Homo sapiens: one gene and its partner. The protein of the gene in region 1 interacts with the protein of each later gene in a pairwise test. Each region holds a gene or a part of one and is shown on either strand. Other genes may lie near its edges. The genes, in order: ECE1 and MYOC.

Region 1 (3,813 bases):
TGAATACCAGGATTTTCACATTTTCCATCCTGGCTGCTTTAGTGAACTCCTATCTTAAACACATGTGCCTAGCTCCATCTCCATGGAGACGGCTGTTTTAACTGACTAGGACATTCCACTTGTGACTCACACCCTCTGGGGCACACCAGTGAGCTCCATTTTCCACACCTGCAGCCAAGGAGTACTGTGGGTCACAAACCAACCAATTCAAATAGGTTTGAAACTGGGAGAGAAGAGAAGAATGCTTCTGAGCTTCATCTCAGCTGGAGAAATGGGGTAGAAAATGGGGCTCAGGCCCAAACAGCCTTTGGCGTGAGGGTCCTAGAAAGGAAGGGGAAGGTCCTCAGGCCCCCAGAAGTAATGGAAGAGTGTCTGATTCACAGCTCTGAGTTCAGACTCTGCTGGGGACTAGCCTGGAAGCATTCTGTACCCCAGCAGGGCTAGCCTAGAACCACACTGTGAAACCTGGCGTGCTTTTCCCTAAGTTACCTGGAGTATGGGAAGAAAACCCCATTTCCAGACACCAGGGAACAAGACATTCTCTGTCCCAGAGTAGAATGAATCAAATTGATTTAGTGCTGGGTTCCTGGGTGACATCGCTAATAACAAAGGAATAGTAACAATAATGATGAATATAATATGTTATGCTTGTACTGGGTTGTGCAAATGAGTTTACTGAATGAACTCTCATCCTTTACCTCAACTTATTCTCCAACAACCCTGTGTGGCAGGCCAGGAAGAGATTCTTACTTAGAACACAGGCTTCAGGGGGCCAGGACTTCTTTATTATTTTATTTTATTTTATTTTATTTTATTTTATTTTTTTGAGACGGAGTCTCGCTCTGTCACCCAAGCTGGAGTGCAGTGGTGTGATCTTGGCTCAATGCAACCTCCGCCTCCTGGGTTCAAGTGATTCTCCTGCCTCAGCCTACCGAGTAGCTGGGACAACCGGCGCACACCACCACACCCGGCTAATTTTTGTATTTTTAGTAGAGACGGGGTTTTACCATATTGGTCAGGCTGGTCTTGAACTCCTGACCTCAGGTGATCCACCTGCCTCGGCCTCCCAAAGTGCTGGAATTACAGGCCTGAGCCACCATGCCCGGCCAGGACGTCTTTAAATGTCAGACATAATTTTAAAAATATGCATATATACCCATTTATTCTGGGAGATAGTCCATGGTTTTTGATCTGTTCTCAAAGGACTCTGTGACTTAAAGTTAAGAACCACAGGCCGGGCGCGGTGGCTCACGCCTGTAATCCCAACACTCTGGGAGGCCGAGGCGGGCAACTCACGAAGACAGGAGATCGAGACCATCCTGGCTAACACGGTGAAACCCGGTCTCTACTAAAAATACAAAAAAATTAGCCGGGCGTGGTGGCGGGTGCCTGTAGTCCCAGCTACTCGGGAGGCTGAGGTGGGAGAATGGCGTGAACCCAGGAGGTGGAGCTTGCAGAGAGCCGAGATGGCGCCACTGCACTCCAGCCTGGGCGAGAGCGCGAGACTCTGTCTCAAATTAAAAAAAAAAAAAGAACCACAGGCCAGGTGCGGTGGCTCATGCCTGTAATCCCAGCACTTTGGGACGCCGAGGCGGGTGGATTATGAGGTCAGGAGTTCGAGACCAGCCTGACCAACATGGTGAAACCCCGACTCTACTAAAAATACAAAAATTAGCCGGGCGTGGTGGTGCCTGCCTGTAATTCCAGCTACTCAGGAGGCTGAGGCAGGAGAATCGCTTGAACCTGGGAGGCAGAGGTTGCAGTAAGCTGAGATCATGCCACTGCACTCCATCCTGGGCGACAGAGCAAGACTTTGTCTCAAAAAAAAAAAAAAAAAAAAAAAAGAGGAACCACAGTCCCTTGTGAGGGCAAGGGCTATGTCTCATTTGTGTTCTGGCACACAGCTGGGGTGAGTGAACGAGCCAAGCCCATTTTACAAGGAAGGCAGCCAAATTCACATTAGAATTTAATCAGAAATATCTGTAAAAACTCGAGAGAATCCATATATTTCCTAAAGATCTTAATTGAACTTTGGGTACTTAGAACACAGAGGCTGTTTGGCCAGGCGTGGTGGCTCATGCTTATAATCCCAGCACTTAGAGCTCCAAGGGGCTTACAGTCCTCTGAATCTAAGCCCAGGGCTTGTGTACTACAAGCTGCTGAGTCTGCTAAACTCCCCCCACCTTGGCAGCTGTGCAGCTGGGAGGCAGGAAAAGCCTTTCTTCCTCTGCTTGGAAGAAGAGAGCAGAAGCAGTGGTGATAGGATGCCTGGGGGGAACCTGGTGGCCATGCTGGGCTGATGTGCTCAGGGCTCCTGTGCCTTCTCCGCTATTCCTGGCACAGACAGTTGGCATCATGGCCACGGTAGGGGGCTGAGGCACTGCGGGGGCCCCTCAGGCTGAGAAATCGGCTGGAACAAACCAAATTATAATGCACAAACAACATCACCCTCAGCCTCCTGGCCTCAGAGCAGGAAAAGAGTGCCAGATGGTATCTAACAGCAGCTGTTGATCTCCATCCTGGTCTGAGCAGCACCACTGAGCCTCAGGCCAGTTTCTCTGGGAGCTGAAGGGCAGCCAGCACCAGCAGGAGGCCAGGCTCCCCTGACCCTGATCGTGGGCCCTAGCACGGCCTGCATCTCCGCCTGGGACACCCAGTTGGCCTGGAAATGCTCATCTATCGTTAGACTCACCTTCCCTGACTTCTCCCCACCCCTGGCTCCCAGGGCCCGCTGCTTTTGCCCAAAGCACTCAGCAATGAGACAGGGTTGTTTCTAGCTGGTGTCCCCCACTAGCCAGGAAGCACATGAAGCGCAAGGTCCCAAGACGGACCCATATACACCTGTCAGCTGGAGGAGGGTAAAGGGCAGGGACCTAGTGTTCTTCCTGAAAGTAGAAGGAACGGACAACAGGTCAAATTCGGCTGGTCACAAGGTAAGGAAGGAGGGAGATGACACTCTGCGGGAGCCCCTCCTCAGCAGAGAAGCAAGGCCTGGCCACGCATTCCTGGGTGATGTCAAGAAACGGCAAGATCGGTGGTGGCCATTCTGCTGATCCCTCTGCAATGCCAGCTGATGCTCTGGAAAGAAGGAACCAGCAAGCTATTCTCTCTGGACCCTCAAGAACCAAGCAGCCACCAGAGGGCAGCCTTTGGCAGAGGCTGAGCCCTTGGACGTTGGGCTTCTCCAATGGGTGACAGAGAGCATCACAGATCTAACGCCCTGTTGTACAGTGAGCCCATCTGCGGCTGGCTCCTCTGCCACTTAGGAGCCTCCGGACCTTGATCTGGCTCAGAAAAGGGAAAAGTAATGACAGAATCCACACCATGCATTTATTAAGTGCTCACTGTAACCAAGTTCGATGTGCTTGGTGCTGGAGAGACTGGAAAGGCGCTGTCAATGTAAGCTGGTGTGGTCATGACCCCGAGCCTCCAAGTAAACACTATTAATTACAGAGAAGCAGCCTGGTGTCGGCCAGGCGCCTATTTTGGAGTCACTTACTAGCTGTGTGCCCTTCAGCAGGTAACTTGACCTTTCTGAGCATCAGTTTTTCCATCTGTGGACTGGGCATAACAACCATCCTTCCTTTGTCACATAGTTTCAAGGACTAGATGAAATGAGTATAAAAGCCCCCAGTCCAGGGCCCTGTCTGAAACCTGGAGGCCATCCCAGCCTCCCTAGCAGCCGGCGCTCAAGTTACCTGCAGCTCGGCTGCCGTCACTTTGTGGTAGATGAGCTCCTCATCACGGCGCTTCTCCTGTGGGATGGTGATGTTGGCCAGTGCCGTCTCAAAGTCCAAGATCTGCTGCATCTGG
Region 2 (3,813 bases), about 150 Mb from region 1:
AGACCCCATCTTTACAAAAAATTAAAGAGTTAGCTGGGTGTGGTGGTGCAGTCTGTGGTCTCAGCTACTCGGGAGGCTGAGGCAGGAAGATGACTCTTGAGTCCAAGAGGGCAAGGCTGCAGTGAGCCATGATCATGCCACTGCACTCCAGTCTGGGTGACAGAGTGAGACCCTGTCTTAAAAAAAAAAAAAATTAAAAAAAGAAAGACTCATAAGCCAAAATGTATATGTAACTGAGGACATCCTCAATGTGCATTCCAAACTCCAGGGGCAATTGGGAGTACCCCCCGGGACATGGCAGGCCTTCATTATTCCTAGCCTCAAATCCACAGAGCTATTTATCCATCCTTTTAGTCACATCATTGGAGCACCTATTGAGTGCAAGGCTGTGCTAGGTGCTCAAGAAAAAAAGGTGTCTAAGACACAAGTTTGTCTAATAGGCTAGTCTATGTTTAAAAAAAAAAAAAAAAAGACACAATCAGTCCATGCCCTTAAGGAAATCATAATCTGGCAAAGTCCTCATACCCGAGAAGGAAAATGGGTTTATTCCAGGCTGCTGCGGAAACCAGTTTCTTGGACAATCTGAATGGCTCCTGGAGAGTCCTGGAAACTTTTATTTCATTCCCTGCGTCTCCTTCTCCCTATCTGAGGTTGTGCAGGGGTGAGGAAACCCCTTTGTTCTTCATTCTAAAGGTTGCATTGGCCTAGGAGGGTATCCAGGGCAGGGACTGATTCACTAGGTCAAATGGAGTTTCCTTAGATCGACCTGAGACCAGTACCAGCTGCTTCCCTTCTCCCCCTGTGCAGGCAACACACACCTCCGGCAGGGACTTGGTGCTGCCTATGGGGGAGAGGGACAGGGTGCCCGAGGTTCCCTGTTCTTCTGTGCTGCCAGGGAGAGGTAAGAGAGAGTGACCGCCTTCCTGTACACAGGTGGCAGAACCATCTGTAACCTTCCTCTCTGATGCTGCCTCGCCGATTGCCATGCCTTCTCTCTTAGGCCCAGAACACACACCCAGGCTGTTAGGAGCAGCCCACCGCTCCCTGGCCCTGCCAGCCTCCTGCAATGTGCAGAGGCTCATTCGATGTGGCAAAGTCTTGCCAGGACAATTTTTCAAAATCAGGGCATTAAGCAAGTTCCTTGAATTGAGCTGGTTTCCTTTCATCTGTACCTCTTCTTGGATCACTGCAGACTCTGCCTCAGGACAACTCAAATTTCTTTTCTTTCATTGTCTCAACTCTCAGAATATAAGAGTTGCTGGGCATGGTGGCTCACGCCTGTAATTCCAGCACTTTGGGAGGCTGAGGTGGGTGGATCATGAGGTCAGGAGTTCGAGACCAGCCTGACCAACATGCTGAAACCCTGTCTCTACTAAAAATACAAAAATTAGCCGGGCATAGTGGCACATGCCTGTAATCTCAGCAACTAGGGAGGCTAAGTCAGGAGAATCGTTTGAACCTGGGAGGCAAAGGTTGCAGTGAGCTGAGATTGTGCCATTGGACTCCAGCCTGGGTGACAGAGAGACTCTGTCTCAAAAAAAAAAAAAAAAAAAAAAAAAGGAGTTGGTTTCAGGCAATGTGAGGAGAGAGAAATACTGCATGCCATCTGTACACAAAGTCTGGAGGACTGCCCCAACCTTGTCCCTACACTTCAGCTATGCCATCCACAGTTGCCATGGGAGGGTCCCTTAATAAATGTGTCAATACTAAAATTTCTCTGGAATGTTTCAAAATCACTAACATTTCATTCTGAATGTGGAAGAAAACCAAAAAGAGATTATGAAAATATTAAGGGCTATATTGTGACAGATCGTTAACATTTTTAGGGCTTTTTTTTTTAGGTTTTTAAAAAAATATTAAATTCAGGCGAGCCATCCCTCCCCTGCATCTGGCCCCTTTACACATACAAAATGATGTATTTTATGCTGGTTATTTAATTTAACAACTTACCGAGAAAAGATGTATACTAAGAAAAGTAGGGGTACCTACCTACCAGTCAGTGGGGAGAAAATTAAGAAAGAAATGCCCCTTTTGCTATAGAGGGAAGGAAGAAAGTGAAACCCAAAAAAGTCAGGCATTTTCACAGATGACTTCCTTGTGGATAGCTAAAGTATGTACTGGCTTTGCAACTCTAAAAAACAGCTTTTTTTTTTTTTTTTTTTGTGAAACAAGATGGTTTGTCGGCATTTATAGCTCTTTGCCCATTTCAAGTAATTTTTATGTAATTTTTAAATGTGATCTGGTGCCTTCAAAGTTTCAGAGAAATAGAGAAAGGCTTTAGGACTGCAGATAGCGCCTGATAAAGTTGAACTATCGCTACTACTTATTAAGTGTCTCTTATGAGCCAGTACTGTGCTGGGTGCTTGCTACTCACTACTTTCAAATAATGGTCCTGAAAGTGAACATTAATATCCCCTTTTGCAAATGAGGAAACCGAGGTTCAGAGAGGTTAAGTAACATGCCCAAGGTCACACAGCTAAGTGGTATCGCTGGGACTTGAACCCATGTCTTCCGAGGCCATGGCAGCTGCGAACTCTTCCATCCTGTGCTGAGGAGGTGTGTCAGTTATAAACGCATTGCCTCTCAGAGCTGAATGCACCCTCCCATGTATGCTGTCTGAAGAACAAGAGCTTTGAAGTGAGCGCGATGTTGAACTATCTCAGTAGAGGGCGCTGGAGGGACATCGTGGGAGGAAAAAGGTCTGCAGTTTTCCTGTCCTGCGTCCATAGGTGGTATGACTGTGAGGACATTTGTTGGAGTCCTACCCCAGCCACGGACCCAGAGCGAAGTTCTTCTGTGACCTCACAGCCACAGCCTGGCCATAACCTTTCCACAGCCCTCCCAACAAGGAACCCAGAGTCCCTGCACACGGACCTCAGTGCTCTGGAGGCCTCCTGCCTGTGCCTGCCCTGACTCCCACCATGCCCTTGCCACACGTTGCAGGTTGCCCTCCTCACCTGCACTGGGAGGCGGCCTATTGCAGCTGCAGACCAGCTGAGGCCTGCACACCTTAGCCACCTTCTCTGCAAGCTGATGTGCTGAACCTCACCTTCCCCTTCCAAGCTTGTCCGGCACCCTCCCTCAGCCCTAGGTGCCTATGGAGTTCACGTCTATCTATAGTTGCTCTTTCATCACGGTTAGTAATTCTTTAAAGTAAACTTCCCCAGCTTAACCCACTGTGTGATTTCTATCTCCCGACTGGACCCAGATGGCTACTGGAGGCTTCAGAAGAGTCTCAAAGATGCTGCTCAGCACTTTGTGGGGTGACCCACTCCTGGGGCTGAGCTCAGGTCCCAGTGGGTTGCCTTGTAAACTCTCAGCTCCTGGGCTGTGCACTCAATCCTCTTATCAGTTCTTCTACCCTCACTGGCAAAGAAGAGGCAGCAAAAGTGCCTGGCTGGTGCCAAGTTCCCTGCTGAATCCCACCATGGCCCTTACGGCTCTGAGCAAGGAGCCCTTCAGATTGTGCCTTGCAGGAACCACTCCTTATGTGCATTAGCTGGAATAAACATGAACTGCAATAAAACAAAATGTCAGGGAATGGCTTCCAGGATGACGGCAAGGCCAGTTCCCATTTGGCAGGGGCGATGGTTAAGTTATGAGCCTGCTGGCTTCTTCTAGGTCATGTCAGCCAGGAGCATCTGGCAATGGTCAGACTCCAGGAATAGAGCCATCTGGCATGCGGGTGGAAGCCCAGAATAGAGGATGCAAAACCCAAAGGCAGGGAAACAATCTCGTAAAGGGGCCTGGACCTAAGCCGGAAGTCATAGCTCCTAGTTCAGCTCTGCCATGTCCCAGCTGTGTGACTTTGGG

Evidence for each region.
Region 2: the proteins of ECE1 (region 1) and MYOC interact in a two-hybrid assay, tested with the Homo sapiens proteins (one study listed by BioGRID).

Annotation. Positions count from the first base shown.
Region 1 is NC_000001.11:21,252,249-21,256,061, forward strand, and holds part of ECE1 (endothelin-converting enzyme 1), read right to left. Parts: coding exon 3,699-3,813; intron 1-3,698. UniProt on the Homo sapiens protein: Converts big endothelin-1 to endothelin-1.
Region 2 is NC_000001.11:171,642,435-171,646,247, forward strand, and holds part of MYOC (myocilin precursor), read right to left. Parts: intron 1-3,813. UniProt on the Homo sapiens protein: Secreted glycoprotein regulating the activation of different signaling pathways in adjacent cells to control different processes including cell adhesion, cell-matrix adhesion, cytoskeleton organization and cell migration.